Linked DNA regions of Homo sapiens. The protein of the gene in region 3 purifies or fractionates together with the protein of the main gene of each other region. This does not show direct contact. Each region holds a gene or a part of one and is shown on either strand. Other genes may lie near its edges.

Evidence for each region.
Region 1: the proteins of NFATC2IP (region 3) and SMARCA1 purify together in Homo sapiens (affinity purification with mass spectrometry; one large-scale study listed by BioGRID and IntAct). This does not show direct contact.
Region 2: the proteins of NFATC2IP (region 3) and RHEB purify together in Homo sapiens (affinity purification with mass spectrometry; 2 studies listed by BioGRID and IntAct, with this or other methods). This does not show direct contact.
Region 4: the proteins of NFATC2IP (region 3) and SLX4 purify together in Homo sapiens (affinity purification with western blotting, with the first as the bait; one study listed by BioGRID). This does not show direct contact.
Region 5: the proteins of NFATC2IP (region 3) and EIF4G3 purify together in Homo sapiens (affinity purification with mass spectrometry; 2 studies listed by BioGRID and IntAct, with this or other methods). This does not show direct contact.
Region 6: the proteins of NFATC2IP (region 3) and OSCP1 purify together in Homo sapiens (affinity purification with mass spectrometry; one large-scale study listed by BioGRID and IntAct). This does not show direct contact.

What each region holds. Positions count from the first base shown.
Region 1 is NC_000023.11:129,467,200-129,472,498, reverse strand, and holds part of SMARCA1 (SWI/SNF-related matrix-associated actin-dependent regulator of chromatin subfamily A member 1), read left to right. Parts: intron 1-1,172; coding exon 1,173-1,295; intron 1,296-3,593; coding exon 3,594-3,726; intron 3,727-5,299.
Region 2 is NC_000007.14:151,509,107-151,514,405, forward strand, and holds part of RHEB (GTP-binding protein Rheb), read right to left. Parts: intron 1-5,299. UniProt on the Homo sapiens protein: Small GTPase that acts as an allosteric activator of the canonical mTORC1 complex, an evolutionarily conserved central nutrient sensor that stimulates anabolic reactions and macromolecule biosynthesis to promote cellular biomass generation and growth.
Region 3 is NC_000016.10:28,959,224-28,964,264, reverse strand, and holds part of NFATC2IP (NFATC2-interacting protein), read right to left. Parts: intron 561-5,041; coding exon 402-560; 3' UTR 1-401. UniProt on the Homo sapiens protein: In T-helper 2 (Th2) cells, regulates the magnitude of NFAT-driven transcription of a specific subset of cytokine genes, including IL3, IL4, IL5 and IL13, but not IL2.
Region 4 is NC_000016.10:3,607,895-3,613,991, forward strand, and holds the start of SLX4 (structure-specific endonuclease subunit SLX4), read right to left. Parts: upstream 3,713-6,097; 5' UTR 3,666-3,712; exon of another isoform or gene 3,235-3,665; intron 1,673-3,234; 5' UTR 1,071-1,672; coding exon 536-1,070; intron 1-535. UniProt on the Homo sapiens protein: Regulatory subunit that interacts with and increases the activity of different structure-specific endonucleases.
Region 5 is NC_000001.11:21,174,098-21,178,193, forward strand, and holds the start of EIF4G3 (eukaryotic translation initiation factor 4 gamma 3), read right to left. Parts: upstream 2,801-4,096; 5' UTR 2,625-2,800; intron 2,317-2,624; exon of another isoform or gene 2,296-2,316; coding exon of another isoform or gene 2,078-2,295; intron 1-2,077. UniProt on the Homo sapiens protein: Component of the protein complex eIF4F, which is involved in the recognition of the mRNA cap, ATP-dependent unwinding of 5'-terminal secondary structure and recruitment of mRNA to the ribosome. Functional homolog of EIF4G1.
Region 6 is NC_000001.11:36,418,763-36,424,061, reverse strand, and holds part of OSCP1 (protein OSCP1), read left to right. Parts: intron 1-595; coding exon 596-699; intron 700-1,091; coding exon of another isoform or gene 1,092-1,125; exon of another isoform or gene 1,126-1,165; coding exon 1,166-1,294; intron 1,295-1,842; coding exon 1,843-1,912; intron 1,913-3,446; coding exon 3,447-3,586; intron 3,587-5,007; coding exon 5,008-5,071; intron 5,072-5,299. UniProt on the Homo sapiens protein: May be involved in drug clearance in the placenta.

The DNA.
Region 1 (5,299 bases), on a different chromosome or scaffold from region 3:
TTTAAGTTACTTTTAAGTTACAATGATATAGTTCCAAACTCTATGAAATACATATAACAATGAGAAAAATGCACTCTAATGTGTATTATAATTACAGGGTAGTAAAACCATGACTACCTGATGCCCCTAGGGAATGAGTCATGTGTGCATTTCAAGCAGTGGAAGGCTTACTGCCAGCCCTTTTATTTTCATGTTTAATGGAATGCTATAAAGTGTAGTACACATGTTATGTACTTGCCCTCTTAAATCAATGTGCTTCCTTGTAGCTGCAGATGCACATAGCGATGGTATCAGGCTTTAGGCTGAGAGACTTCATTTGTTCCTCCATACACACAGTATAGTTCAGCCCCATACTGCTGAACCACATTGGTTATATATGCTCACTGTGATACACTGAGGCTCTGCAGGCTACAGTTTTGAGATACAGGTGACAACTTGCTTTCTTGGAGAGCTGAGCTTCTGTCCTTATCTTTTGAACTCAAGTTCTCTTCTCAGTTTTCACTGTATTTGCAGTTCTGTACCCAAAACACCATATATGATTTCTGTTGGTCACTGCTGTTGTAGTCTTTTCCTCCTTGACCACTGGTCCTATCATAGCTATTTGTGTGCTCTACTATACCCTTCCCTCTTATATTCTCTGTTTCCTCTTTTTTCTTCATTATCCTGTTAACTTTTTCCAAACTTTCCATTTTATGTAAAAATGCTCTCTCCCCTTACATACCTTGGCAGGCAATAAAAGCACTCCTTTCTTTTTGCATGTTGAACTGATCAGACTGTTGGATGTAATGTTCAGGTGCGTTGCCACTTCTCCATTCTGCTCTGTGTTGCCAGGGGAATATGGATTCTTTTTTGTTTTTTACCACTAAACTTTTTGTTTGTTCTGTATATTACAATAGTATAAGGGTAGACTTTGTTCCAGGGTATAATCATATCTGAAATCTAATGTGGCATTTGCCAGTGAGTTTTAACTATGGAATATCATGTGGCACAAGAATGGTTTTTACTTCAATAGGATCATGGTAGCAGAAATGTGGAGAGGACCGTGTGTCATTCTGGCTATGATTTTATATTGTTTACTCTTGAAATAACTCTAAAGATTGATATGTGTATATACAGCCTTAGTAATTAATTTTTCTCATCAGTTTACTCTTAGTTTATCTCTTGATTTATAGGTTCCAAGGAATCCTGATATCCCAAATCCAGCTCTGGCTCAAAGAGAAGAGCAAAAAAAGATTGATGGAGCTGAACCTCTTACACCAGAAGAGACTGAAGAAAAGGAAAAACTTCTCACACAAGTAAAATATTTTCAATGGCTGTAATACTTACAGTCAATCAATAGAAAAAAAGAAAATATAGATCACACTTTTTATTGTATGGGCCTAGTATCCTAGTGTGACACACCAACAAAACTCAGGGCTATTTTGTAAACATGTTTAGACCAAATCTCCTTATTTTTAAAAATTGATCTTATAGAATATGCCCTTTTGGAAATAGTGGATAGTATGTATATGCAAAATATAAGTGTCAAGTATTAGCAATTTGACATACATTTTGCCAATTATAATAAGGTCAGTGAATCCACATTTGAATTCTGATAGACAGTAGTTATTAACATATTCTTTTTTGTTTTTTGAGACAGTCTCGCTCTGTCACCCAGGCCGGAGTGCAGTGGTGCGATCTGAGCTCACTGTATCCTCCACCTCCCAGGTTCAAGTGATTCTCCTGCCCAAGCCTCCCGAGTAGCTGGGATTACAGGCACCCACCACCGTGCCTGGCTAATTTTTGTGTTTTTAGTAGAGATGGGGTTTTGCCATGTTGGCCAGGCTGGTCTCAAACTCCTGACCTCAAGTGATCCACCCACCTCGGCCTCCCAAAGTGCAACTGATACTACAGGTGTGAGTCACCGTGCCAAGCCTGTTATTAACATATTCTTGAAAATTTAAATTTCTTTTGTTTATAGATGTGAATTGTCTCCTGAAGTTATATTCTACTAATTTTTTATTAATGGAATAATTTCATAATTTTCAAAATTCTTTTTATCTTTTTTTATAATTTTCATACAATGATGAGAGATTTCTGAAGCTTTTATTATTATTATTATTATTTAAGGTGATCATTGTATAACAATTATTAAATTAGGAAGGTTTCCATTTGAACAAAATATTAATGCTTTTAAGTCATTATTGCTATCATGAGTTTTACGAGTGTTCTACTTCTAAAATAAACTATAGAAGATAAAAATTTCAGCATAGAAGGCTTGCAAAATAAACAAAATGTGTACCGTAGGACATTACTTTAGTATAGAGGGTTGCCAGCAAGATTTATTTATTCAACAAATTTTGAACAATGTGCGATGCATAGTAGTAGGTAATTCTCCACGTTAATTATTGAAAGATAGTTTTTATATTTGTATATTATTTATTATATAGGTTTTTTTTGCTATAACGTAATTTTATTGTATGGATTTTCACAAATTACATTCATAAGTTTTTGAGCCAAATGCCTGGAAGTAATAAAGTTTAGTTTGAAAATATAATGGCAGATGGCTGAATATTAGAACTTACCACAGAATAAAATAAAACATTTAAATATTCATGTTCTATTTTCAAAATGTATTTCCTGAATGTAAAAGTAAAGTTATGGCTTTAGAATGCTACATGACTTGGAGTATATTGTGAATGTACGGTATAACATGAATATACAGTCTCAACTGAGATAATATTTTAGTTTGTAATTAGAAATATAATCAGTTTTCTGCTTCTCCTAGTATATGAATTCATTTTTGTCCTTCTCTGCTGCCTTAAATAATTAATCTTTTTCAAAAAACCATGGCAGTACGTAGGAACAAAATGTGGGGTCATCTGAAATCTTTATCAACTAAAAGCCAGGGATAGAGTTTTGCAGTGTCTGGAGTATCACATTTATGTGAGTTGGGGCTCGAGGAGTGGAAGACAAATTCTTGGTCTTGTGACTTCACAGACATGCTAATAATGCCAAGGGAATTTAAAACACTGGCTAAAGTGTTTTATGTTTTAGTAAAGAAATTGAGTGGCTCCAATAACGTTCTGCTTGTAGAAGTTCTATTTATGAACATAATTTAGAACAGAAATTATTTATTCACACTAGTTCAGAATGATGTAAAGAGCTACAATTTTTTTTTGCATTATCTTTTGGTTATTCCTCAGTGTTCTTTTGATTTAGTGCATCCACATTTCTCTCTTTTAATTTATGTAGGAACAGATCTGTGAAAAAAATCATTGAAGTACTAGAATATCACGACTTCAGCATTTATATTAGCATTTTTATTTTCATGCATTTGTATTTTAATGTAGGCATCTATAAAATATGAAATTAAAAACTACAGATCTTCGAACTATGTATCAACATTCTCTTTGTAATAGAAAAGCAGTTATTTCTATAACAACTCTCACTCAACTTTTGATTCCAACATAAAATATGTGCAATTTTATAAGGAGAAACATTTTAAGTCTTTTAAAGTGTTTTTTAATGTATCATTGTATAGAAGTAAATAGGGCAATAAATGGATTTATTAATTTAACCTCTATTGATAATGCTTAACTTTTTGTTCACAGGGTTTCACAAACTGGACTAAACGAGATTTTAACCAGTTTATTAAAGCTAATGAGAAATATGGAAGAGATGACATTGATAACATAGCTCGAGAGGTAGAGGGCAAATCCCCTGAGGAGGTCATGGAGTATTCAGGTTTGTATATAATTTGAAACATGGTGTTGTATTTTAACGTTATTCATTTATTTAGCATCAATTTAATTGTACCTTTGTTCAGAGATGTTTTAAACTTTTATGAATAAGACATAGATGAGAGTATAAACTATAATTGTATTTCTATGAAAAGGTTATAAGAAAGGTTATAAGATTTATCCTAACAAACTGACTGCTATTGTCTCTATCACCTAGCTAAAAGAGGCAAATAAAGCTCTGATAAAACAAGGGTGGCTCTTGGATAAGCATTGACAAAATTAGTTTCCCACCTTCCCACCTCTGGAATTTGGTCTTCTGGTTCAGTTCTGAGATTCACATTCAGTGGATTGAATTCGTGCCTTTCTTTCTAGGTCGTCCTTAAAGTAGAGAGTTCCTGTCAGGCCCATTTAGATGCTCAAACACCCTCAGAGTTCCACCCTATTCCAGAGAGTTCCTGTGGGTCCCATTAACTTGGGGCTAGCGGGCGTAGAGCTGAAAAGATTGCTTTAATCAATCTGTTAACTGGTCCTCAAATCCTCTCCCTCTCTTACTCACCTGTGTTGTTGAGCTCGACCAGAATCAGTTTAGCTGCTGAAGCATATGGATTTTTTTTACACTTACTGGTTTATTATAAAGGGTATTGTAAAGGATACAGATGAAGCGTGTAGGGCAAAGTATGGGCCAAGAGGGCGCAGCGCTTTGGTGCCCTCCCTGGGCGAAACCTCTTCGTGTTTAGCTATCCAGAAATCTTATTAAAAATAGGTAAATATGTCTAGCAAGTTTTCTATATGTAGTACATGGGACTTTTCTAACTTCCAAATAGGTTCAGCTCTTAAACTTATCATTTGAAACAAGATGTTTAGAATCTAGAGCATTTTTTGTCATTGAAACAATGGCAAAGTAGGTTTAAGTTTACAAAGTAGGTTTAAGTTTCTATGATAGCCCCTGCCCCAAATCTATTTAACCCTACCACTGAAATTCTGTTTTTGCAATAGTAGGAAAGAAACATTACAGTACCAATAAATATACTAAAGATTAATAATAGCTAGGAACAGCTTTTAATTTATCTAGCATGCTAGTGCTTGAAGAAATCCAGATTTAATTAGAGAGATTTTTTTTTCTTCTGGAAATCTAAAAGAGTCTTCTGGGGGACTTCAGAGGTCAGTTGTATTGAGTTTTTATTACATATAATATAACATTAAGTATATGAACTTCCTTTTCCTTCATACCAGCATGATATTACTATTACTCTGAACATTTAGCACATAAATTTAGGGCATTTGGAGGCTTAGGGGAAAAAATAGATTGAAGAGAGAAATTTTAGCATCAAGAGTTGAATGAAAAGAATGTAAAAGGGTATGTGCAGAGAGATTTTTAAGAAGAATTTTTTTCAGAAGATAGGCAGGGAGATAACATCGGTGTATGTGAAGTTGCAAGAAAAAAATGTGATTTAAAAAGATGATCCTGTCAGACTTTCTTTCAAATTTGACACCAAGCCAGGTGGCATGACTAGCTCAGGACTATTTAATTGCTGCCTGCCAGGTTGGGGGCCATGTCACAGGGTGAGGAGATTGCA
Region 2 (5,299 bases), on a different chromosome or scaffold from region 3:
CTTGTAGTAAGACACTGCCTGCCTGAGTGGGCAACGTGAGCGTGTGGGGCCACCCGGGCCCAGCAACCTCATTTGTCTCTGGGGCAACAATCCTGCGGTGTGAGGGTATGCTTGGTCAAATCCTTGGGTGACACAAGGACCCAGGGCCAGCAAACCCTCAGAACCCTACTTGTAGGCACAGCCACCTGTCTTCGGGACCATGGGAACTGTGCCCTGTGTGGGTGGTCGCTAGGGCCTCTGTGGCCAGAAAGCAAGGAAAGTGTGTGGATCTGGCAGGTGCATAAATAAATCTGGTCCACCCCTTAAACTTGCTCCTGTTCCATCATTTCTGATTTTAGCCAATGGCAACATGACCTACTCAGGCACTCACATGAGAAATCTGAAGGCTACTTCACAGCTTCCACATTGGTCTTGCCCATTCTCCCTCTAAGGAAATCTCCCATGTGCGTCCTCTTCATCTCATCTACTCTGCGCCTTGGCTGGTCTTCCCATTTCTACTCCCTTACCACCCCTCCCACTTCACAGAACAGCAGGAGGATGGAAGCCAGGATCAGCACACTACAGACCAGGGGCCAAATTTGGCCTACAGCCTGTTTTGGTTTTGTACAGTCTATGAGCTAAAAATGTTTTTTTCATCTTTAAGTGGTTGGAAAAAGAAACAGTATTTCATGATACTGAAAATCAGATGAAGTTCAAGTGTTATATCCATAAATAAAGTTTTACTAGCACACAGCCACACCCACTCGTTGATGTATTGTCTGTGGCTGCTTCCGTCCTACAAAGGCAAAGTAGAATAGCTGCAAGAGAGGCTACATGGCCTGCCCTGCAAAGCTTGAGATATTTACTATCTGGCCTTTTACAGAACAAGTCTGCCAGTCCCTGGTATAGATCATCGTCTTATTTGTTGCTTAAAACCCTTCAGTCACTTCCCACAGTTTCTAGGAAAAAGTCTAAAACTTTTCACAGAGCAGACAAAACTGTTCTTGAAGGACAGTTGGCAAACACATGAGTCCCGACCTCTCTCATTACTCACACCTCACCCTTCTCATTCACTCAGTGAGCCACACTGCCTTTCCTTTAAAGACAATTCTCCCACCACCCCCATCCCCACTTGATGATCAAGTTAGCCCTGCCTTTGATTATTTCTCTCAAACACCTATCCCAACTGTATTTAAGTAACAATCGTGTAGTAGCTGATTAAAGACTGCCTGCTCTGGAGCCACTGCCTGAGTTCAAAATCCTGGCTTTGTCACTTAACAACAGTTTGACATTGGGCAAGTCACATAAACTTTTTGTACTTCAGTTTCCTTATCTGCAAAATAGGTGTAACAACTGCACCTACCCGAGTTTAAAGGCTATTAATACATGTGCATTAAGATTGTACCCCATAACAGTAAATGCTTCAAAAGCACCAACAATTATTATTCTCAGTAGCAGGAACAAGTTCCTGTGGCTCTCAACTAGACTGAAGCTCCTTGAGGGCAAGGATTATAACTGTCCTAGCTTTTGTGACTGGTACAAAGTAGAGCATTTATTCAAATGCTTAATGAACACCTAATTTGAATAACACATAACACTCACAAACTGTCCTCTTCAACCAACAGTTGCAGTGATTCAATCTTTGGGGGCCTGGCCCAAATGTTCTCTTTCAAACAAATGCCAAATGTGATTGAGATTTTAAAGCCAGCAAAATACAGGTGCAGTGGCTCAGCCTGTGATCCCAGAACTCTGGGAGGCTGAGGTGGCTGGATCGCTTGAGTCCAGGACTTCGAGACCAGTCGAGGCAACAAGTAAGACCTCATGTCTACAAAAAAATAAAAAAATAGCCAGGGCATGGTGGCACACACCCATAGTCCCAGCTGCTCGGGAGGCTGAGGCGGGAGGATCCTTGAGGCTGGAAGGTTGAAGCTGCAGTGTGCCGAGATCGCGACATTGCACTGCAGCCTGGATGACACAGTGAGACTCCGTCTCAAAAAATAAAAAATAAAAAAAAAAATAAAGCTAGCAAAATAGGCAGACACATTTATATCTAAGACACAGAAGTCTTAGAAAAGCATTTCATCTCATAAAACTGTATTAACTGTAAAAGCCCATATTTGCATCCCCATTCACAAATTATGTACTATGCCATCAGGTAGTTATTAACATTCAACTCTCAATCCTGCAAAAGGTGGGATGGTGTATCTTGCTAAAACACCAACTTCTCTTTCAAATGTCCATGAGGAGTCCTTCTGCAAACATGTAAGCACAACAAAAAGAGAAATGCGGGAGAGAAAGACTCAATTCTACTACAGATAAGACGCAAACCAAGCAAGCATGACACTTCGGAGTGAATTCTATCACTATCTTTAAACTGCCCTGCTTTCTTAACTTGCCCATAAGAGCACAACGTAAAGGCTTTTCTAGCACTTCCTGTTCTAAACTAATACCAGTTTAGATTTAAAGCTCCAATCCTACAGGAACTCCTTTTTTTTTTTTAATAACCAGAAGCCCAACATATATTGAAGAAAATTAAAATACTAAAATAGTATTCCAGAACCTTTAAAATGTTAGATTTCTTTTTTTTTTTTTGAGATGGAGTCTTGCTCTGTCGCCCAGTGGCGCGATCTCGACTCACTGCAACCTCCCCCTTCGGGTTCAAGTGATTCTCCTGCAGGCCTCAGCCTCCCTAGTAGCTGGGATTACAGGCGCCCACCACCACGCCCAGCTAATTTTTGTATTTTTAGTAGAGACAGGGTTTCGCCAGGTTGGCCAGGCTGGTCTCGAACTCCTGACCTCAGGTGATCCACTCGCCTTGGCCTCCCAAAGTGCTGGAATTATAGGCGAGAGCCACTGCGCACAGCTGATTATATTTAAAAATCAATCCAGCAATTCATGTTAAAAGGACTCAGCAGTTTGCATTCTCACAGTTAGCAAGAATGACGTGACGAAGATAGACCGTGAGTACTGTATCAATGTTAAGATTTCATTTGGTACTTCAGAATAAATTAGAACTAAGAATGAAGGTTCCTTCAAGTATGATCCCTAAAGATTTCATAATACTCTCACTTGCACAATCATGTGCAAGTTCAGTTCTGATTTATTCAAGTAACTAAGAACAATCCAGCCATGGACACTATTACAGTTGTTTGCGAACTTGTTATTCTGAATCTTCACCCAAGAAAAGCATTGTGCATCTCTGACCTTCCACAATCACAGGTAGAGGTGGCAGTGTCTCATTCTGTGATAAAGTTGCTATTTTTACTTGTGTACTCCTCCCCACCTTCATCCTGATACTCGTATTTAAAAACTATATTATTAGTATATGGGTCTCTGGTATCCTGCTACTCTTTGCAATTTTCACTACTCTCTGGGAGCCTCGCCATCACCAGGTCCAAACACAACTCATCCAAAAATGCAACACAATCAGAGGCCAAACCAATAGGCACACAGATATCATAACTCTCCTGATGTTCTCTGGCCTCCCTCGTGCTTCCTTCCATTCTAACCACGCCAAGTTCTTTCCTGCCTTGCCATCTTTGTCTCTCACAACGCTACAGGGCCTCTCCTAGGAGGCTCTTCTAACACTGTGGGAACCATATCGCTGTGAACAGCATTTAGGATGCAGTCACTGTCAATTCGATTTTGCACAGCAGTGAACAAGATCCTAGCTTACAACAGTTTAATGGTTCTCAAAGGGTGGTCTGTGGACCTCTAAGGGGTTTACCAAAATCTTTTCAGGGGTCTCATGAGGTCAAAACGATATTCATAGCAATATTAAGTTATCATTTGCCTTTTCCACAAAGTTCCCATTTGTACTAAGGGTGCAAAAGCAATGGTAGGGAAAACTGCTAGCTCGGCACCCCTTGGCATGAATCAAAAACAGTAGTTACAAACTGAGTGGTAAGTCACTGTATTCTTTACTACCATGCATTCACAGTGGGAAAAGAGCTGTTTCTACTTAACAGTGTCCTTGAAAAAGCAGTAAAATTATATTAAATCTTGACCCTTTGGTACCTGTCTTTTTAATATTCTGCACGACAAAATGAGATGTACACATAAAGCACCTCTGTTACATACTGAAGTATGATGGTTGTTTCCAAAAAAAGCACTTGTGCAGTCATTTGAGAAGTGATCTGAACTGGCCACTTTTATCATGGAATGCCTTTTTTACTTGCAAGAATGATGACAAACTATCATTATTGCAAATGTGAATAGCTGGCAGACATTTTCTTGGAAATTAAAGAAACAAAACAGTCAATTCAAGTAAAAACTGGTAGCATGTTGCCAAGGAAATTATTTGAACTCAAGGAGGAAATTAGAATTTTGGAAAACTTGCACCACTCATAGCGAACAGTGTTCTAAAACTTAAGACTTTGCAGAGATTGGTGGTGATATTAACAAATGTGATTTTTAAAAATGCTTGTATAATAAAATGTGTCAACATGTGGAAGATCTGCGTAACGATGAACAAATATTTTCCAAATGACCAGTAACGCTACAAAACCAGGCATGGTAGAAGATCCATTCCAAGTATAAAGCAGACCTGCGGAGTTGGGCAAATTCATCAATATGATTTCAGATTGCATAGTGTAACTATTCTTTGCAAACTATCACTTATGAAGTTTCGGTATCAAAGAATATTCAACTACCTGAAAAACTATTCAAGTACTCCTTACTTCATTAAAATAACGTTAAGGGAATGAATTCAGGAGCAGAGATGAGAATCCAGCTGTTAAGACATTAAAAGATACCTGCAAAACCGTGAAACACCTTATCAAAATTGCAGTTGCTTTTTTGGCAGAAACTGGCAATCTAGTCCTAAAATTCAATATGGAAATGCAAGGGACTGAGAATACCCAAAAACATCTTCAGAAATAATAAAGTTAGAGGACTCATATGCCCCTATTTAAAAACCAGCTACAAAACTACAGTAATCAAGATCGTATGGTACTGGCAGGACAGACATACAGATCAATGGAATGAGTGAGTTCTTCTATTGACGGTCACTTCATCTCGGACAAGGGAATTCAATGAAGAAAGAACATTATTTTAACAAAAGAAGCTAGGGCAACTTGATATCCACATGCAAAAGTATAAAGTTCTATCCCTCCCTCACATCATATACAAATATTAACCACAAATAGATCACAGATCTAATGTAAGAGTTAACAGGATAAAATATCTAGAAGAAAATATAGTAGTAAATCTATATGACCTTGGATTAGGCAATGGCTTCTAAGATGTGACACCAAAAGCATAAGTGGCAGGAGAAAAATAGATATATCGGCCTTCAAATTAAAAACTTTCTGCTTTGAAG
Region 3 (5,041 bases):
GGTGTAAATCCCAGGCCTGGAAGCTCCTACCCAACCCTCATTTGTTTCAACTCACTTTCAATATGTGCATAGTTTCATAAAGCAGACATTTCCATGAGGAAAAGAGGATGGTGGTGAAAGGGGAGGGGTGAAGGGACATCTCCAAGTCACAGAGGCTGCAAAACTCAGCATGACTTGTGGACGGAGCCACAGGCCACCCAGGGCAACAACACCCACATAACTCACCAAGTGGTTAACGGCTCTAAACCAGGGTCAACAGGAGAGGGGACAAAAGTCACTCCTTGATTTTGCTGCAGCTTAAAGATAAGTTCTACCTCAGCTTATGCTAGCCCTTATGGGGCAAAAAAGGGAAAGTCATTCTCCCCAAGTCCAGGCTGGGCCGTCAAACAGGGAGTGGGGTGTCAGCCCCAGACCTCAATGAGGTCCCCAGATTCCATGCCCAGGTCAGCTGGCAGCTCCCTGCCTGAAAGCTTTGTCCCATCAAAGAAGAAGGAGAGCTTCCGTCCCGACAGTCCCATGGCCTCCTCATAGTGGGACATGAGGGTCTTTAGAGGGGAATCCTGGATGGAGACAAAAGAAAATGGACGTCAGAACATGAAAGGGGGCGGGGATCCCGTAGGGATAGACGAGGAACTTGGGACAGGGAGGATGGCGGCAGGGGCGGAAACAATAAAGTCAGGGCCCCATGCGGGGAAAGGAGAGAGGACAAAGAAGCCAGCCCAGCCAGGCTCCTCTCTGGGAGCTGGGACGAATCCTGTCATCCCTCTGGGCTCCAAGTTGCTCAGGTAGAGGACGGGGGCCACGAGCCCAAGGCTTAGGGGTATAGGCTCTAAGTCAGGCAAGTCCTCCTAGCCTCAGCCTCCTTCCCTATGAAACAGAAGTGTGTACCAATGACTAAGAGAGCCCAGATTCTAGAGTGAGGATGAGTCGAGCTGGAGGCCAGGCTCTCCCACCTATTAGATATGTGACCTTAGAAAAATGTTACAGGTTATGTTCCCCAGAGAAGACACCTTGTGGTCTTAACCCCTGTTAAGTGTGAATGTGATGTGATTTGGAGACGGGGCCTTTGCAGATGCAATCAAGTTGAGGTTGTACTGGATTGGGACGAGTGCTAATGCCGTGGGACTGGTAGACAACTCACTGCAACCTCTGCCTCCTGGGTTCAAGCAATTCTCCTGCCTCAGCCTCCTGAGTAGCTGCAACTACAGGCACAGGCCACCACACCCAGCTAAGTTTTTGTATTTTTGGTAGAGACAGTTTCTCTGTTGCCCAAGCTGGTCTCAAACTTCCTGAGTTCAGATAAGCCACCCACTTTGGCCTCCCAAAGTGCTGGGATGACAGGCGTGAGCCCCCGCACCCAGCCTGGGACTGGTATGCTTATGGAACAGACACAGAAACAGACATGAGGGGAGAACACACGTGATGACAGAGGCAGAATGGAGTGCACCTGCAAGCCAAGAATGCCAAGGACTGTGGGCCGCCAGCAGGAGCCAGGAGGAGACAGGGCAGATTCCATGAAGAGACCCTGAGGGACTGCGTGATGTTGTCAAATATATATTTGGTCTTTGTATGTTTCCTGGTATAAAATTCCTAAAATCCCTGGGAAAGAGTTAAGTATCTTTTTGCATGCTAATGAGTTGACTGGTGGCTGGCAGCCCCTAGAGAGCTTCAGGAATGGTGCTGGTCACTAGAAAGACCAAGGTAGGATAAGACAGTTGGGACTTTTTCCCCACCCCTCAACCTCCAAGAAGGAGGGAGAGAGTGAAGGTTGAGTCACCACCAATAGCCCATGGTTTAATCAGTCATGCCTATATAACAAAGCTTCCATAAAAATCCAGAGGACAGGGTTTGGAGAACTTCCCAATAGTTGAACATGTGGTGATTCCTGGAGAATGGTGCCCAGGGAAGCTATGGAAGCTCTGCGCCCTTTTCCCATGCTGTGCCCTACACATCTCTTCATCTGTATCCTTTGTAACATCCTTTATAATAAACCAGTAAATGAAAGTAAGTGTCTCCCTGAGTTCTGTAAGCTGCTCTAGCAAATTAAACCCAAGGAGGGGGCGAGGTGCAGTGGCTCATGCCTGTAATCCCAACACTCTGGGAGGCAGAGGTGGGAGGATCAGTTGAGCCCAGGAGTTTGAGTCCAGCCTGGGCAACATAGTGAGACCCCGTCTACACAAAAAAAATTAAAAAATTAGCCAAGGGTAGTGGCACACACCTGTAGTCCCAACTACTCAGGAGGCTGAGGTAGAAGGATCGCTTGAGCCCAGGAGTTTGAGGCTGTGGTAAGCCAAGATCGCACCACTGCACTCCAGCCTGGGCAACAGAGCAAGACCCTGTCTTTTTTTTTTTTTTTTTTTTTTTTGAGACGAAGTCTAGCTCTGTCGCCCAGGCTGGAGTGCAGTGGCTTGATCTTGGCTCACTGCAACCTCCGCCTCCCAGGTTCAAGCGATTCTTCTGCCTCAGCCTCCTGAGTAGCTGGGACTATAGGCGCATGCCACCATGCCCGGCTAATTTTTTGTATTTTTAGTAGAGACAGGGTTTCACCATGTTGATCAGACTGGTCTTGAACTCCTGACCTCGTGATCCGCCCACCTCAGCCTCCCAAAGTGCTGGGATTACAGGCGTGAGCCACCACGTCTGGCCCTGTCTCTTTTTTGTTTTTTTCAAAAGAAAAGAAAAAAATCCTGAGTTTGTTTTCTTCCCCCATATCTTCAGAGACACTTGCTCTGCTAACACCTTGATTTCAGACTTCTACCCTCCAGAACAATGAGAGAATAAATTTATGTTGTTTTAAGCCACCCAACTTGTGGTACTTTGTTACAACAGCCAAAATACAAAAGTGGGGTGCTGCTGGAATAAATGGTTAAATGTAACAGTGGCTTTGAAATTGGATCAGGGCTGGAATAATTTTTTTTTTTTTTTTTTTTTTTTTTTTTCAGATAGGGTCTTGCTGTCTCCCAGGCTGGAGTGCAGTGGCCCAATCTCAGCTCACTGCAGCCTCAATCTCCTAGGCACAAGCGATCCTCACACCTCAGCCTCCTGGGTAGCTGGAACTATAGGCCTGCGCCAGCATGCTGGGCTAATTTTTGTATTTTTTGTAGAGGCAGGGTTTCACTATGTTGCCCGGGCTGGTCTTGAACTCCTGAGCTCAAGCAATCTGTCCATGTTGGCCTCTCAAAGTGTTAGGATTACAGATGTGAGGCACTGTGCCTGGCCAAAGCTGCAAGAATTTTGAGGTGTATGTTAGGAAAAACCTAGACTGCCTTGAAGAGACTGCTGGTAGAAATATGGACATTAAAGGGAATGTCCCTGCAGGCTCACAAAGAGGAGAGGTGCAGAGAAATCTCCTATCATCTTAACAGGATGCATATATTGTTATGAACAGAAGGCTGCTAGAAATATGAATATTAAAGGTGTTTCTGGTGAGGTCTCTGGAGGAAATGAGGAATGTGTTATTGGTAACTGGAATAAAAGTTTCCAATAAAGGTGGCGCAATCATGGCTCACTACAACCTTGATCTCCCAGGCTCAAGCAATCCTCCTGCCTCAGCCGCCTGGGGAGCTAGGATTACAGGTGCTGGGGTTACAGGTGTGAGCCACTGCACCTGGCCCAATTTCTCACTTTTGAAATGGGAATGTCTATCCTATGTCTGTCCCATCACTGTATTTTAGAAGCAAATAACTTATTTTCTAGATTTCACGGGTCCGCAGAGAGAGAGAGAGAGGAATTTTGTCCCAGAATGGACCATACCAAGTCTCATCCAAAACTGATTTAATGATTTAGAAAATAAGATTGGGACTTCTTGAGTTGATTATATTTAAATGAGATTTTGGGCTTAAGAGTTGATGCTGGGATGGGTTAAGACTTGTAGGGATATTGGAATGGGATGTATATATTTTGCAGATGGGAAGGCCATGAATTTGGTGGGGGCTAGAGAACAGTGTGTTAAGGGTTGAACTGTATTCCCCTGAAAAGGCACTTTGTGGTCCTAACCCCTAGTAAATGTGAATGTAACCTTATTTAAAGTAGGGACTTTGCAGATATAATCAAGTTGAGATGAGGTTGTGCTTGGTTAGAGTGGGGCTAGCCCAACATGACCTATGTCTTTCCAAGAAGAGAGACGAACACAGACAGAGACACATGGAGAACACCGTGTGATCACAGAGGGAGAGACTGGAGTGACACAGCTGCAAGCCAAGGAACTCTGGCCACCAGCAGAAGCTAGAAAGAGGTAAGGAAGGTTTCCACTCAGATTCTCAGACGGAACCAGGCCCTGCCAACACCTTCAATTCAGACTTCTAGGCTCCAGAAGTGTACAGGAATAGGTTTCTATTGTTTTAAGCCACCCAATTTGTGTATTTCGTTAACAGTAGACTTAAGAAATGAATGCAGCAGGCCAGGCGCGGTGGCTCACACCTGTAATCCCAACACTTTGGGAGGCCAAGGTGGGTGGCTCACTTGAGGTCAGGAGTTTGAGACCAGCCTGGCCAACATGGTGAAACCCTGTCTCTACTAAAAATGCAAAAATTAGCCCAGCACGTGCACCTGTAATCCCAGCTACACGGGAGGCTGAGGAAAGAGAATCACTTGAAACTCGGAAGGCAGAGGCTGCAGTGAGCCAAGATCATGCCAGACTTCAGCCTGGGCGACAGGGCGAGACTCTATCTCAAAAAAAAAAAAAAAAAAAAAATGACTGCACCAAGTTGCTTATTCCACCTCTCTAGAACTCAATCTTCTTATTGCCAAATGAGGATAACAACAGTGCTTTGTGGCCCACATCAGATTGTTGTGAAATTAAATAAGATCCTGAATGTGAGGAAATTATCCTCAGCACGGGGACTAGCACTTAGCCGTGTGGCCTTCATTGTTATTTTGATGGGTTTTATTGATTACCGTCTAAGGGTCCTTTCTGTTTTAATCAGAAGGAGTCAGGAGACCGAGGGAGCACCCAGACTAGGGCAGAGGGTACCAGTAGAAGCGGGGAGGGAAGTTGAACGATGGGTTTTCCCACTACCTAGGATGGCTGGGAACCCAAGAA
Region 4 (6,097 bases), about 25 Mb from region 3:
TTATTGTGTTGTTTGTGTAACTCATGTCAATCATATAACAGAATTTCATAGGAAATTCTGAAAGAGCAGAGGACTCCAAACACAATCATGTGAAAAATTCACACGGGTTATGTTTTTCTTGACTGTTGTTTAAACCAGGAGTCAGCCGGGCGCAGTGGCTTACGCCTGTAATCCCAGCACTCTGAGAGGCTGAGGCACGAGGATTGCTTGAGTCCAGGAGTTCAAGACCAGCCTGGGCAACATAGTGAGACCTCCAGCTCTAAATTTTTTTTTAAGCTTAAAAATTAAAAAATAAAAACAAACCAAAAGTTAGCAAACTACGGTCATGTGGCTGGCTGCCTGTTTTTGTAAATAAAGTTTTACTGGCATATGGCCATGCCTGTTCATTTACATATTGTCCACGCCTGCTTTCTCACTATGACAGCAGAGTTGAGTAGTTGTGACAGAGTCTGTGTGGCCTACAAAGCCAAAATATTTACGATCTGGCCCTTTCCAGGAAGTTTTCCAGCCCCTGGTTTAAAAGAGTACAAATTACCTCTGGTTTTCTCTCTGGAAAGGTTTGGCGATGGTTCTTGCTGGTTACCCGTCTGGGTGTTTTGTGCTGTTTCCCGGAGCACAGGTGGATCTGGAGCAGAGGCAAGCACACCCCCCTCCCCATTCACAGAGTGGGCCGGTTCACTTGCTTGCCATTTGGTTACCCTTTGCTTTTTAGTCCTAGGGGCCTGGCTGCCAGACGGAGGTTTCTTCTCTGCAGGGCCTTGAAGGGTTTTGGTCTTGGTAGCAGTTTGTTTGGTCCTTTTCAATTTGCTTCTTATCTGAGTGCCGTTTGAGGCAGCCTTTTGTGTCTTCCTTTCTCCTGACACTTCCTTGATTCCATGTTTTTTCACCCTTTGGAAAAAGCTAGCGCAGAGTTCTTTAAAGTCCTCATCAGACTCATCCATCATCTGACCAGTTTTAAGGCTTTCAGGCTGGTCTTCAGAGGAGCGAGGGTCAATCCCAGGACAGGCAGACAGATGAGAAAGTGAACCCAAGTAGAAGCCTAGCTGAGCCTCATTCACACTCAGTTTCATTAGGGTTCTTCTCTACTTCTCCATTAGATACTTGGAGAGTTTGCACAATTGAACAAAAAGTACTGTTTTCCTCTCTATAATGATTGAAGTATCTTTGTTCAAATTGGGCCTGTGGTTAAACATGTTTAAAGCTTCCCTCTGTTAAAGTCCACAACTGGGCCGGGCGCGGTGGCTCACACTTGTAATCCCAGCTCTTTTGGAGGACGAGGCGGGGGGTGGATCACCTGAGGTCAGAAGTTCGAGACCAGCCTGGCCAATATGGTGAAACCTCGTTTCAACTGAAAATACAAAAAATTGGCCAGGCGTGGTAGCAGATGCCTGTAATCCCAGCTACTCGGGAGGCAGAGGCAAGAGAATCGCTTGAACCTGGGAGGCGGAGATTGCAGTGAGCCGAGATCGTGCCACTGCACTCTAACCTGGGCAACAAGAGCAAAACTCTGTCTCAAAAAATAATAATAATAAATAAATAAAGTTCACAACTGAAAGAGTGTTTTGTTGTCCAATAGATGCCTCTGAGATCGAATACATATGAACCTGGTGCTCAGATAATTCTCCAAGATCTCCATGATGATGAAACATATATGGTTCACTTAATTACACATCTGTGGAAAACCAAAAGCATGTAAGTGTAATCAGACATTGTCATTTTATGCCAGTTCTTCCAGGGAGGGACAAGGGCATGTGGGGTGAGGGAAAAGTCTTCGGAGTAACAATACTGTCAAATACTCAGTCCAGCCTGGTTAACATGGTCTAACCGTCCTATCAGACATCACAACAAAAGGACCTAGAAACCTGTCAAAGCATGTTGTTCTTCCACAGGTATTAAAATATGTGCATCTTGGGAGAGTGTTTTCTTAACTGAAATTTAGGGAGCAAACCCCATAAAAGGCAGTCACCACAGAAACAGGATGATCCCCAAATCTAGGAAAACTATCTCCTACACTGATCTAAGACCCCTGGCTGTTAAAGAGGCTCTTTCTGTAAATACTGCAACATAAGAGACAGAAAGAGACATTATATTCTCATGAACACTCAGGAGAGAAAAGGTCACTTTTACTTATCTTCTCAACCCAGCAAGGCTCTCCAAACCTGGATGACTGGAATGTCGCCTGTGTGCAAAGGCTGGGCCTCGTGAGCATGGTTGTTTACTTTGGCACACAGCTAAGTGGGGTTCAAAAATCAAAACTGAATGACCCAATGGCAGAAAGTTATTCCTTTCAAATACAATAATGCAATCTCCACTGTCCAAGGAATCTAATTAATCATTTTGTTTTCCAGAGCTGAAAATACTCCTACCTAGAATCTACTTTGTATGGCTGGCGCATTCTCTTCTGTGTCTTCCCCTTAGAGAAGTGTCCTCTAATCCTTTATGGACCGTCTCCATCCCCGTTAATCCCTATCATCGCCCACTGTTTTCACAATGGCATCTGTCATAGGTTATCATCATATGAAACAGGTAATATCTATCGAATGCTTACTGTGTGCCAAGCACTGTTCCAATTGCTTTCCAAGTCAAACTCGTTTAATCCTTACAAGAAGCCTATATGGTGGAATCTCTTGTCATCCTGTCTTTACGGCAAGGAAACACGCGCAAGCAGAATGAGGAACTGGCCTAAAGCCAGTTCAGGAACAGCTTTCACAGTGGCAGGGCTGGGATCAAACCCAGGAAGTGTGGTTCGAAACTATCCGCTCTTGTGTTTTTATTCATCGGCTTATTATCTGTCCCCCATTAAGCTCAACACTTCAGGAGGGTAGAGATCCATCTATTACTTTGCAACCTCTTTGGCTGATCTGGTGCCTGACTTGAAATAAGTGCTCCACAACTACTTGTTGAATTCATGAATTGCAAAGAGTTCGGTATAATGGGAGTAGAGAGAAAGGTGTAGGAGAAAACGCTGCGGGGAGAGGAAAGGATTGGCTCACAAGGGCCTGGAAGGTCAGGCTAGGCAAAGTGAATTTTATCCTGTTGGATGCGGGGAGCGGCTGGAACAAATTCCACCTCCACAACTGTGTTGATCTCCGCATCTCTGTTGATATGAACCTCACAACAGTCTATCTCCTCCTATAGGTGCCCAGTCAAGATTTACTGAATGACATAACGGATCCTGCAAGCCTGCAGGTTTCCAGAGGGAAGGGGACTTGTGCCTCCTTGCTTCGTACCTACCGCAGCCCACGGCTCACAGCAGGCGAGGGATGAATGAATGGATCGGTAAGGGGCGGACCCTCCCGCTTCCCCCAACCCGGCGACCTACGGAAAGGGGCTGAGGGGTTCCCCGTCTGGGAAAAGGGCTGCCAAAGACTCTAACGGCTCTAAAGTCAGACGGAGAACCCCGATCCCCGGACTGGCCCGGACGGAGACCACCGTGGGGATCCGGATCCGCCACCCTCCTCCCTCCAGGCGGGCCCCGGCCCCTCTCCACCCGAGTGCGGCTCCTGCCTCTCCGTCGGGGCTGCGGGCCTGCCGAGGCCACGGAGCCAGCGAGGGAGACGGGCGAGAAAGGCTCTTCTCCCTTAGGAAAGAGAGAACGGCCCGAAATGACAGGACCTCCGCCTCCCGGGTGCCGACTCCCAGCCCCACAGCCCGGCTCCTCCTACCTCCGGCGCCGCCGCGGCACCTTCTTAACGGAGACTCGCGCGCCTGCGCATGCGCCGCCCGCGCCCCCGCGGAGCATTGCCTGCGCGCAGGCGCAGAGCGGGCGCGCGCGGTGGTGCGGCAGCCTCGCTTCCGGTCTTCCTCTGCGGCGCCGGGCGCGGGCCCGCGGCGGCCAGCGCTTCCGGTCGGCAGGAGGCGGGGCGAGGCGGAAGCGGCGCTTGCTTCAGGTGGAGTCTGTTAGTTTTTGAGAAAGAGTTAGGGCGAGTTTAAGGCACTGTGGCAGCTGTGAGATAAAGTCTGGTTCCTCCCCAGCTGGCTCAGGAAATGTTCGCGGATACAACGGCGGCCCCCTCTGGGCATACCTGCCTGTGGAGCGGAGAGTGGACGGTGTGAGGGGGACCGGGAGAGGCACCAAATCTGGCCTGGGGGCCCGAGAAGCTTCCTCTCAGGTGGGGTGGCGTGAGAGTCGAGGCCTGGAGGTCGGGGAGGGTTAGCTACGTGAAGAGGGGATTCTGCCGCGCTTCAGGTGCCTGGAGGGGATGCCCGAGCTCTTCCGCAGGGCTAGGGTGAAGCCAGCCAGGGCCTGGGGGAAAGGTAGCAGAGGTTTGCCATGGCTTGGTATTTGAGGGACTTTACACATCGTATTAAGGGTTTGAGCTTCAACTTGGGGTCGTCGGGAGCCATTGAAGGTTTTTTGTTGTTTGTTTTTTGAGACGGGGTTTTGCTCTTGTTGCCCAGGCTGGGGTGCAGTGGCGCGATCTCGGCTCACTGCAACCTCTGTCTCCCGGGTTCGAGCGGTTCTTGTGCCTCACCTTCCCAAGTAGCTGGGATTACAGGCGCCAGTCACCACGCCCAGCTAATTTTTGTGTTTTTAGTAGAGACTAGGTTTCACTCTGTTGCCCAGGCTGGTCTCCAACTCCTGACCTCAGGTGATCCGCCCGCCTCGGCCTCCCAAAGTGGTGGGATTACAGGCGTGAGCCACCGCTCACGGCTTTTTTTTTTTTTTTTTTTAAGTAGAGACGGGCGGTGGGGGCGGGGGGGGGAGTCTCACTATGTTGCCCAGGCTGGTCTCGAGCCCTGGCCGCAAGAGATCCTCCCGCCTCGGCCTCCCAAAGCGCTGAGATTACAGGCGTGAGCCACCACGCCCGGCGTAAGATTTTGTTTTTAAAGGCCTAATTACAGTGAGAACAGATGAGGCAAGGACACCCATTAGGAGGCTATTACATAATCTAGATGAAAAGTGAGAGCGGCCCGAATTAGGAGGTGGAGCGAAAAGAATGGAGAAATATGGAGCATAGTCAAGACGCAGTTGTTAACGATTTGCCGGTTTCTGGCCTTAACATCTGAGAGTAGTGTGCCTCCAGTCACTGAAATAATGAACACAGGAGAGGTGTAAAGGAATCAGTTTGCAGGGCAGACAATATGTTTTTTAAAAGATACAGTATCATAAAATGCACACTAGAAGTGTACATTCAGTGGTTTCCAGTACGTTCACAGGATTTGCAGCCATCGTCGCTAATTCCAGAACGTTTTAAAACCCCAAATCGAACCTGCCGTACCCATTCGTAGTCACTCCGCAATTCCCCCGACCCCATCCCCTGGCAATCACTTATCGGCTTTCTGTCTCTGTGGTTTTGCGTATTCAGTACATTTTATGTAAATGGGATCATGTGATACTTGGCTTTTTCTGCTGGGCTTTTATTAAGCATGTTTTCAAGATTTCATCCATGTAGATGAATCAGTACTGCATGCCTTTTCATGGCTGCATAATCACGTGTTTGGATGGACCATGTTTTGTTTATCCATGTATCAGGTGATGGGCATATGGATGTTTTTACTTTTTGGCTGTTAGAAATAATGCTGCTATGAACATTCGTGTTCATAACACAAGTTTTTGTGTTCTAGGAGTGGAATTACTGGGTAAGACTACATTTGATTCTGAATGTTGAGCTTCAAAACCTTCCAAGAGGTTTTCCTTGATGAAGGATTTAGGAGGTGTTTACTTGCTCTCTGGCTTGGAAATCTAAGTTAGTTTGTAATATGGTTTCCAACTGGATAAAGAAGACAGAACAAGAATGATAAGCAGCCCAGAGGCAAGGGTAGGGCAGGGTGTCTTGGGACTTGAATTTATAGAGGAGACTGAGTGACGACATGGAGAGGCCAGTGCTGTTGAAATAATTTCTCTTTCCTTCCTTCCCTTCCTTGCTTCGTTTTCGACGGAGTTTGGCTCTTGTTGCCCAGGCTGGAGCGCAGTGGTGTGTGCAACCTCCACTTCCCTGGTTCAAGCGATTCTCCTGCCTCAGCCTCCGGAGTAGCTGGGATTACAGGCGCCCGCAACCGCGCCTGGCTAATTTTTTTTTTTTTTTTTTTTTTTGGACAAAATCTCGCTCTGTTGCCCAGGCTGGAATGCAGTGGTGTGATCTCGGCTCACTGC
Region 5 (4,096 bases), on a different chromosome or scaffold from region 3:
AGGAAGATTAATTTTAGCTTCAATGGCATGAGGCAAAGTAAAAACTTAAAGCCACACAAAAGTAAGTGTTCCATATGACTAAAATTGGTTTAAAATTATCTACACTGGAACTTACACTTAAATTTATCTCTTTAACAAGTGCTTTTTATTCAAAAGAAAATTAAGTTTCAGCTTTTGTAACTACTTGAATGTTGCAACCAACTCAGAGCTTTTATAAGTCCTTCTATGAAATGCACTGAGAAAAAGCATACTTGAAACACAGCTGTATCCCAAAAAGCCACCCAATTCACCAAACAGTGTCACATTCAGCACTGTGGTCCTTACTACTCTGTACATCAAGGACACCTACTACAGGTTTCCTTTTATTTCTGTTCAATTGCCAAAACAGCTCAAAGATGCAGGTAATGAGTAATTTACGTGGTAGCACAATTCAGAAACTTAAAAGTCCTAACCGAGTATAGGCAATCAAGGTAAAAAATGAAATTAGAAAGGAATTTAAACTCACAAAGTAGTAAGCAAAGACAGGTTTAAAAGATTCAACACTGAACTCTGCCTTTAAGTAGGCAAACCAGCCAATCTTCCCCCACCCCAGAGACACTGAACAAAACCAACCAGGTTTTCCATAAGCAACGCTAAGTTATCACCACACTTTCTCATCGGTGAACAATTCCTAATTGAACAGAATCATGCAGGATAAAAACATTATGAAATCAGTACACACGTCACACTGGAATGGAATTTATCTTTACACTGCACCGCGGTGCCTGGATTGAAAATCACGAACTAGGTTTAAAGAACAGAGAAAATGACACTTGGCAGAAAACAAACAATGACCTGAAATGACTCTAGAAGGGAGATTGCTTTCCCTTCTCAAAGTAATCTATACAGACAAGAATCAAACTACAGACTGTGAAATAATCTGGGGACCTCACAGCAGTTAGCTTCTTACTTGCTCAAACATCCTACAATCTCTAAAAGTCAAACGCACGATGACACAAACATAAAAACACAACACATCTAACATCCAATCATTATTTATTGATTTACACAAATACAGTGGGTGTAGGGAGGAGGTGATGCATGATGAAATGTTATTCTCAGGTACGCAATACCTTTCTAAATCTCCGTGGAATACATGAATTCAACGTTTTACCTTCACCGGCTAGTTTTTGACTAAAATACCCCATCACCAAGTCTTTTCAATCAAAGCTCTCCAAAATTCTACAATCGAGCAAATAACATGAAATTAGAAACATTCAATACTAGACTTTCCTCCAGAAGCCCTGGTAACTCTCTAGACATCAGGCCTATGAGGAGTAAATTAAAGCCCATTAAAAATATTCAGCCTAACACAAATCTTCCAAGAAGTGAGACTTTTGTGGGTGATGGGTAATGTCGGTGAACTTCCTCTTCCTTTAAAAAGGTCAAAGACAGGGAAGCGTCCGGCGTCACATTTCCTCCTCAGATCTCTACCACAAACCACATCACAACTCTCCCATTACTAAAAAAAATTATCCAGAGGAACTGCTTTCTGTACATTTTCACCTTAGACTGAAAATCCAACATACCTCGGAAACGAGCTGATTGGTTTCAAACAAGAAATTTACCGATAAAGTTTATTATGTACTAATAATAATTATGGAAGCCCACTGTGTCCCGCTGTAGGGGGAGCCGAGGGGAGGTGAAGAGCAGGAGGGTGTAATCCTCACAACAACCAGAGAAAAGCCTTCCCTGCAGGGTTGGTCCCAGGCACCAAGCAAATTCTGCCCAATAAAGGGGGGGAGGGTACCTTAGGGGAGGAGGGGAGAAGGGACCCCAAGCTCTAAAAGGAAGGGGCTGCAGAAGCATGGCCAAGTGGGGCTAGCTTTCACAGTATTGCAGAGGGTCTGGGGGTCCCCCCGCAGTGCTGCTGCCGGGGCACCCCAAAAGCTCCGCCCAAGCCCGATGCAGGGGCTTGAGCCGCTGTCCCTTTCCTGGCTGGGCTGTGGCGGCCGGCAGGAGGGTCCCCTGGGCTGCGGGGTCCCCCTGGACTGCGACGACGAGAACCGAAGGGCCGACAGGAAGGTGAAAAGGATACTGTTGGGGCGCCTGAGTCTGGAGGGCCCTGATGTTCGGGTGAGGAGGGGGGACCGCTGCCGCCGCCGCCGCCGCCGCCGCCGCCGCCGCCGCTGCTGCCGCCGCCGGGTGAGGAGGCGGTACCGCTGCTGCCGCCGCCGCCGCCGCTCCGGTGCCGGGTCCGGTTCCTGCTGCAGTCGCTGTGCCTGATTTCAGAGCCGGTTTCTGCGGTAAACTCATGGCAAAGCGAAGCCACCAACCCCCCCAGAGCGGGACCGGGCGCGCCGGGGTGCAGGGGCCGGGGGCAGCGGGGGGGCGGGATGGGGGCAGACCCGGGGAGGCGGCGGGAGCGGGGGGCTGGGGGGAGCCTGGGGGGAGGAGGAGGAGGGGGCCGGGGCCGGTCACACACGCCCGACGCCGCCGCCGCCGCCGCCGCCGCCTCCGCCGCCGCCGCCGCCGGCAGCAGCAGCCGCCCCGCGGGCCAGCACCACCGGCTGCCGGTCTCCGTGACAACGCGACCCCAGGGGGGGGGCCGGACCCGGCGGGGGCAGGAGGCGGAGAGACCGGACCTTTCACGGCAATATCCTCATGGGCCGGCGGCGGGGGATCTTTATCCCCCTCCCCGGAGGAAGCGGCGCCCTTCTCGGTAGCGGGGCTCAGGCGATGCCGGTGGATTTTCTTCACTCAACGAGCAGAGCATCCAACATGGCGCTGTGGCCGCCTCCAGCAGTCCGGCAGGACGGCTGCTCGGAAAACTTCGGACTTTTTCGGAATGGCTCGGGAAACCGAGGGTGGGAAGCCTCTTCGGCTCTTTCCGGAGACTGCTAGGGGTCGGGATTCTTCGGAGACGCTCGGGTGCGTCCTCGGCCGCCGTTCGGGAGGGCTCAGGGGCTAACTCGCTTCCTCGGCAAAGATCGGCGAGGGAGGCTTCGCTGGCTTACAGCGGCGCGGGTGCGGGGCGGAGGGAAAGACCAAAGGCGAGGTCTGGCTTGCGAGAGTCCTCCCCTGCGGCCCAGCCTCGAAGAACAATGGTAATGGCCCCGGAGTCGGCTGTTCGCTGAGCCCCGCTCGCAGGGGCGGAGAGGCAGCGGCGAGGCGAAAAACCCCTGGAGAAGGAACCGCTTAACCGGAATGGAACCCGTTGGATAGGGACCCCCCGCGGGGACTTCGCGTAACCAATGCCACCCGCCGGCCTGTAACCCACGCATTTCACACCCATTGTGTCGACACTTCCTCAGACGCTCTGAGAGGTGAATGAGGAGCCCCATTTCCAGAGGACACAGAGGAAAAGTGACTAGCCCAAGGTCACCCTATCGGGAAAGGACAGAGCCTAAATCTAAATGCCACCTTCATCTGGATGAACCTTGCCGCCTCCCATATTGGCTGGGGACATGACCTGAGCCGCCATATCTAATCAGCAGCCTTAACTGAGCTCTGTGGATGGATTCAAACCTAGGCCTTCCCCAGGACTGGAGCGCCCTTTGACCAGCAGCCAGTGATCAGCTCCCCAATGTCCTATGCTGGGTGACATTTGTTGATAAGGATTTTCTTCCCAGCTAGACCTGCCAAGATCACTCCCACCCCCAACCCCGCACACCCCACTCCTTAGCAGGTGCCTTGTCCTAAGCACAGTGGCATTGAGTGGGAAAGAATGGCAGGCATCGGCCGGGCGCGGTGGCTCACGCCTGTAATCCCAGCACTTTGGGAGGCCAAGGCCGGTGGATCACTTGAGGTCAGGAGTTCAAGACCAGCCTTGCCAACATGATGAAACCTCGTCTCTACTAAAAATACAAAAATTAGCCAGGCGTGGTGGCAGGCACCAGCTACTCGGGAGGCTGAGGCGGGAGAATCACTTGAACCCAGGAGGCGGAGGTTGCAGTGAGCTGAGAGAGTGCCATTGCACACTAGCCTGGGCGCGACAGAGTGAGGCTTCGTCTCAAAAAAAAAAAAAAAATGGCAGGCGTCATGGAGCAATCAAGTTTTAATATAATATTTACCAGACATGGCACTAAGCGCTGTACCCTTCATTATCTCAAGCAGT
Region 6 (5,299 bases), on a different chromosome or scaffold from region 3:
TGACGGGAGAATCGCGTGAGCTGGCGGGGCTGAGGTGGCAGTGAGGCAAGATCGTGCCACTGCACTCCAGCCTGGGTGACAAAGTGAGTCCCTATCTCAAAAAAAAAAATAGTTCTGTTTGTTAAAATACAGTTAACTCTGCAAGTGTAATTTTTTCTCCCTTCTTTTTTTTATTTTTTTATTTTTTTGAGATGAAGTCTTACTCTGTCGCCCAGGCTGGAGTGCAATGGCACGATCTTGGCTCACTGCAACCTCTGCCTTCCAGGTTCAAGCAATTCTCCTGCCTCAGCCTCCTGAGTAGCTGAGACTGCAGGTGCCCACCACCACGCCCGGCTAATTTTTTGTATTTTTAGTAGAGACAGGGTTTCACCGTGTTAGCCAGGATAGTCTCTATCTCCTGACCTCATGATCCGCCTGCCTCAGCCTCTCAAAGTGCTGGGATTACAGGCATGATCCACTGCGCCCAGCCTCTCCCTTCTTATTGTTATAAACTCATAGGTCATGTTCCCAAACCATTACGCACTTTCCACCCTCAGAATATTGATGTCTATGAAAATATACCAAGAAAAATGACAATAAATGTATTTTTTTCCAGGTATCCATGTTTCTAAAGGACAAAGTTCAGAATAATAACGGTCGCTTTGTGTTGCCGGTGTCCGGGCCTGTTCCTTGGGGAACTGAAGTTCCAGGACTCATCAGGTGAATTCCCAACAATGATCAGAGCTATGTTTGGGGTGCTAGGAAATCAGCACATGGGCCGCACACGGAATGCCGCACTGCCAAGCCACTCACAGTCTGCCCAGCCCTTCTCTTTCTTCAGTAAAACAGCTATTGAAAAAGTCAGGTTCTAATCCCCACCTTGTCACTTAGTAGAGGGACTTGAGGCAAGTTACCCAGTTCCCCAGGACTAATTTCCTCATCTGTTAAATGGTTACTGTGTGGATGAATAAGATAATAGTGCTCTAACGTGCTTACAAAGCAATTGGCACATACATATGCTCAATAAATATTATTATTGTATTATTATTATTATTATTACAACCAGCACCTTTATCTTGAAGGAGAGCATGTATTCCTTTTTTGTTCTGTAGTACAAAGAATAAAGAAGCCTCCAGGACTACCTAAGCTTGGAGAACATTCCATCATGTCATACTTTGTATTGTAGAATGTTCAACAACAAAGGTGAAGAAGTGAAGAGGATAGAATTCAAGCATGGTGGAAACTATGTCCCTGCACCCAAAGAAGGTTCTTTTGAACTTTATGGAGACCGAGTCCTGAAACTGGGAACTAACATGTAAGCAAATTCTTCTCTGAGTGAATTCAAGTCCAAGGGAGGTCACTTCATTTAAAAAAAAAAAAAGAGAAACAGCCAGACTTCTGCTATGAAAATCCCTGCCGACAATAGGAGTAATTTCCCCTTAGGTACACTGCATACAGAGGCCTGACATTTCAAAGGGCACCCAGGAACGCCAAACATAAGGCAACTCAACAGAATGAAAAGATACATGATGTTCAATAGCCATGCAAGAGAACTAGCCAAAATCTGTGTTGCAGTGGAAATCCAGAAAGACTTATCCGTTCTGTAAAGCTGCATATATTTTCAGTGATGCGTGTTACTCTTCACAAGAGGAGGCATTGCCACCCAGCCTCCCCAGGTGTTTTTCTTTAGGAAGAAGTGAAATGTGAATGGTTAACACACACTCAGTTGCATTCTGTACCCACAGCACCTTTCTGGATGCTATTTAATGTCTCAGAATAAAAGCTACAAACTATGCTTACGAGTTAGAGAGAAGTCCGTGGAAAGGGGCTGGATAATGTCACCATTTTCTGTTGACACACCAGGTACAGCGTGAATCAGCCTGTGGAAACTCATGTGTCTGGATCATCAAAGAACTTAGCCTCATGGACCCAGGTGAGCTTCTGCCTTCCTTGCCTACCCTCACAGCTTCTCTCTAGATACGGAAGTCTACATAAAGAGAGGTGAGAACGCTTTAGATTTCGGATCTAGCCAACATTTCCCCTGTTGTGTGCAATCTTCTCCATTCCACCTTACGAGTACACAGGTTTTAATTGTAGCTTTTCATGGAGACTTCCAGTGATCTCACTAATTAGGTAATTTTAGGCTTGGCTCGGCCACCATAATTAAGAGGAACCACACACCAGGACATATGCAGTAGCGTAGTACCAGTGCCATTAGGTCCGTGATTGCTGACATCAGCACTCGTGTGTATTCTGATCATTAAAACATTTCTTTTTAATGTTTCCCTCTATAGCACCGTGGTAGCTAAGTCAGAGTGGGGGGTTTTAGTTTCTCTGAATTCCATCCTTAGAAGTTTTCGCTGAACTAGCTCCCAGCTAGCTGTAGGAGAGATCACAGAATATTAAATTATTCAGCAAACATTTATTAAACTGCTTCTATGGGCTGGGGACCCAGGGACACGAAGCTGACGTAGATGTGGTCCCATCTTGAAGGGGCCTGTGGTACCCTGGGAAAGACGGTGAAAGAAACAACTCAAATGAGGTGGAGGAAGGGCTGGCTGGGGATCCTGCACAAAGTGCTGTGCCAGAGGAATTCATGTCTGTCCAGTGGACAGGGATCACAGGGATCAAGAAGGCATTTCAGAGGCGGGGATATTGAAGTGGGGCTCTAGAGTAGGTAAACTATGAAACAGCAGAGAGGGAGAAATGGGCACACGGACCAAGGTGACAGAGGGGCAAGAGTGTTCCCGGGAGGAGGATGGCGGTGTCTCCCACGAGGCTTACGTAACGGATCACAGTATCATGGAGGCTTGCTGGCAGAGACTCGCCTGGACAGGACCCTGGGGCCTGACCAGGAAGGGTGGTAAACAATTTGGGCTTTGTTCTTTCGACAGGAGGCAGAGGGCTTTGTTTCAAGCCAGGGAGAAATGAGACAAAAACTGCATTTAGGTAACTGGTGGTGGAGTGAGGGGAGAGGCAGAACAGGGGAGGCCAGGCTACAAGGAAGAGGGGTACAGGATGAGGCAGGATGAGGACTGTGAGAGGAGGGAATGGACTCGAGGGTGTGTTCCCGGCCGTCACCACCTGAGGGCAGTGTGGCAGCGCCTCTGGAAGGAGACTGGACTGAGGCGACTTGTAAATGCTGAGGGAAACCGATTGACAGGAAAGGAAGCCATACACTTCTTCAAGGAGGAAGGTAGTGAGAGGAGAAACGTGGATCCCTGGGGCTTCCACTCTTGCGGAAAGTATGAAAATCTCTGGTTTGCAAAGTTGCTACATTCCCTCTGCTACTGACGTGATTGTTTTTCTTTTGGTTAAGGCTGCTTTCTACACTTTATTTGGACCCAGAAATAATTTAAATAGCAATTGTTCTACCTTATTTTATAATACCTACCTGTGTCTCTGAGGTTTTAGCAGGAAATGTGATTGCCTTCATGTGGCTAAAAATCATGCAACTGTTTCTGCAGGAAAGCATTGCTCCAAACCCTCTTGCTAAAGAAGAGCTGAATTTCTTGGCCAGGCTGATGGGAGGGATGGAGATTAAGAAACCCAGTGGCCCTGAGCCCGGATTCCGGTTGAATCTCTTTACCACCGATGAAGAAGAGGAGTATGTTTTAAACCTGTTTCGTTAAAGACATATAAAAATCCCAAGCATGACAAGAACACAAAATGACTATTACAAACCAGTGGCACTTATAAATATTTGTGTAAATATCACAAATAAAATACCAACAAATTTAATAATCTAAATAGCCCACCAGGATGAAATGGCCTGAATCTTCCAGAGTCATTCAAAAAAAGAGATGGGGCCGGGTGCAGTGGCTCACGCCCGTAGTCCCAGCACTTTGGGAGGCCAAGGCAGGCGGATCACAAGGTCAGGAGGTCGAGGCCATCCTGGCTAACATGGTGAAACCCCGTCTCTACAAAAAAAAAAAAAAAATTAGCTGGGTGTGGTGGCACGCACCTGTAGTCCCAGCTACTCGGGAGGCTGAGGCAGGAAAATCACTTGAACCCGGGAGGCAGAGGTTGCAGTGAGCCAAGACTGCACCATTGCACTCCAGTCTGGGAGACACAGCAAGACTCTGTCTCAAAAAAAAAAAAAAAAGAGACGGTGTGATGGTGCGCACCTGTAGTCCCAGCTACCCACGAGGTTGAGGCAGAAGGATCGTCTGAGCCCAGGAATTTAAGGTTAAGCAAGCTGTGATCATGCCACTGCATTCCAGCCTAGGAGAGAGAGCAACACCCTGTCTCTAAAAAATGATAATAAACAAAACAAAAAAAGAGTTATAATGTTTTACTTATCAGAGAACAGCTGAATAAGCAGTGTTAGAAGCCAGGATGACCAGATTAAGACAGTGTGTTAAGAAACCAGAGTGAGGTTGGAGCTTGATTTCCCTGTATTAGACAGTATAACCCAAAACCAACAGCAATAGTAAATCACCCACGGTGATTTATAGTGCTTTACAGTTTACAGAGCACTTTTGCATGCATTATCTCATGTGATCCTCCTCAAAACCAAGTATTTGGCGTGAGTGTCACCTTTCATTGAACTATTAATAACTTCTTTTGTTTAATTCTGTGTGACAGGTACTATGTAAAGTCCTGGGAATGCAAAGATGTAAGACCTAGAGCCTGTCCTCAGGAAGCTCTCAGCTTAGTGGGAGAGTGAACGTGTACAGATATAAGTTATTTCAGTGCTGTGTCATGAATGCGCTAATTGAGGACAGTGACTGACTTTGCACTGGCAGATTGAAGGAGCTGGCATTTGATCTAGGTCTTGGAGTTTGCCAAGCAGAGGAAGGGAAGAAACATTCTTGGCAGGGCTTATAATGTGCAAAGTCACAGAGAGATAAAAGAACTTGACTTTCTAGGTCGTAGGGTACATTGGTGGGAGATGGGGTAGAAAGTTTAAGAGAAATGGCAGATGAGGCAGAAAAAATAGGTTGCCAACTGATCAAGAGCCAGTTTGCCATGCTGGCAGGGAAAGAACCCTAATGTTGCACCCATTTTCTTTACCATCTCATCCAGACAAGCAGCGCTAACCAGGCCAGAAGAGTTATCCTATGAAGTTATCAACATACAAGCCACCCAGGTACGTACAGGGGATAACACAGGGTCCAATCGTATTCGCTTCCTCATCTTTTTTTTTTTTTCTTGAGACAGGGTCTCGCTCTGTCACCCAGGTGAAGTGCAGTGGCTTGATCTCAGCTTACCGCAACTTCCACCTCCCAGGTTTAAGCAATTCTCATGCCTCAGCCTGCCGAGTAGTTGGGATTACAGGTGCCCGCCAATATGCCCAGCTAATTTTTTTTTTTTTTTT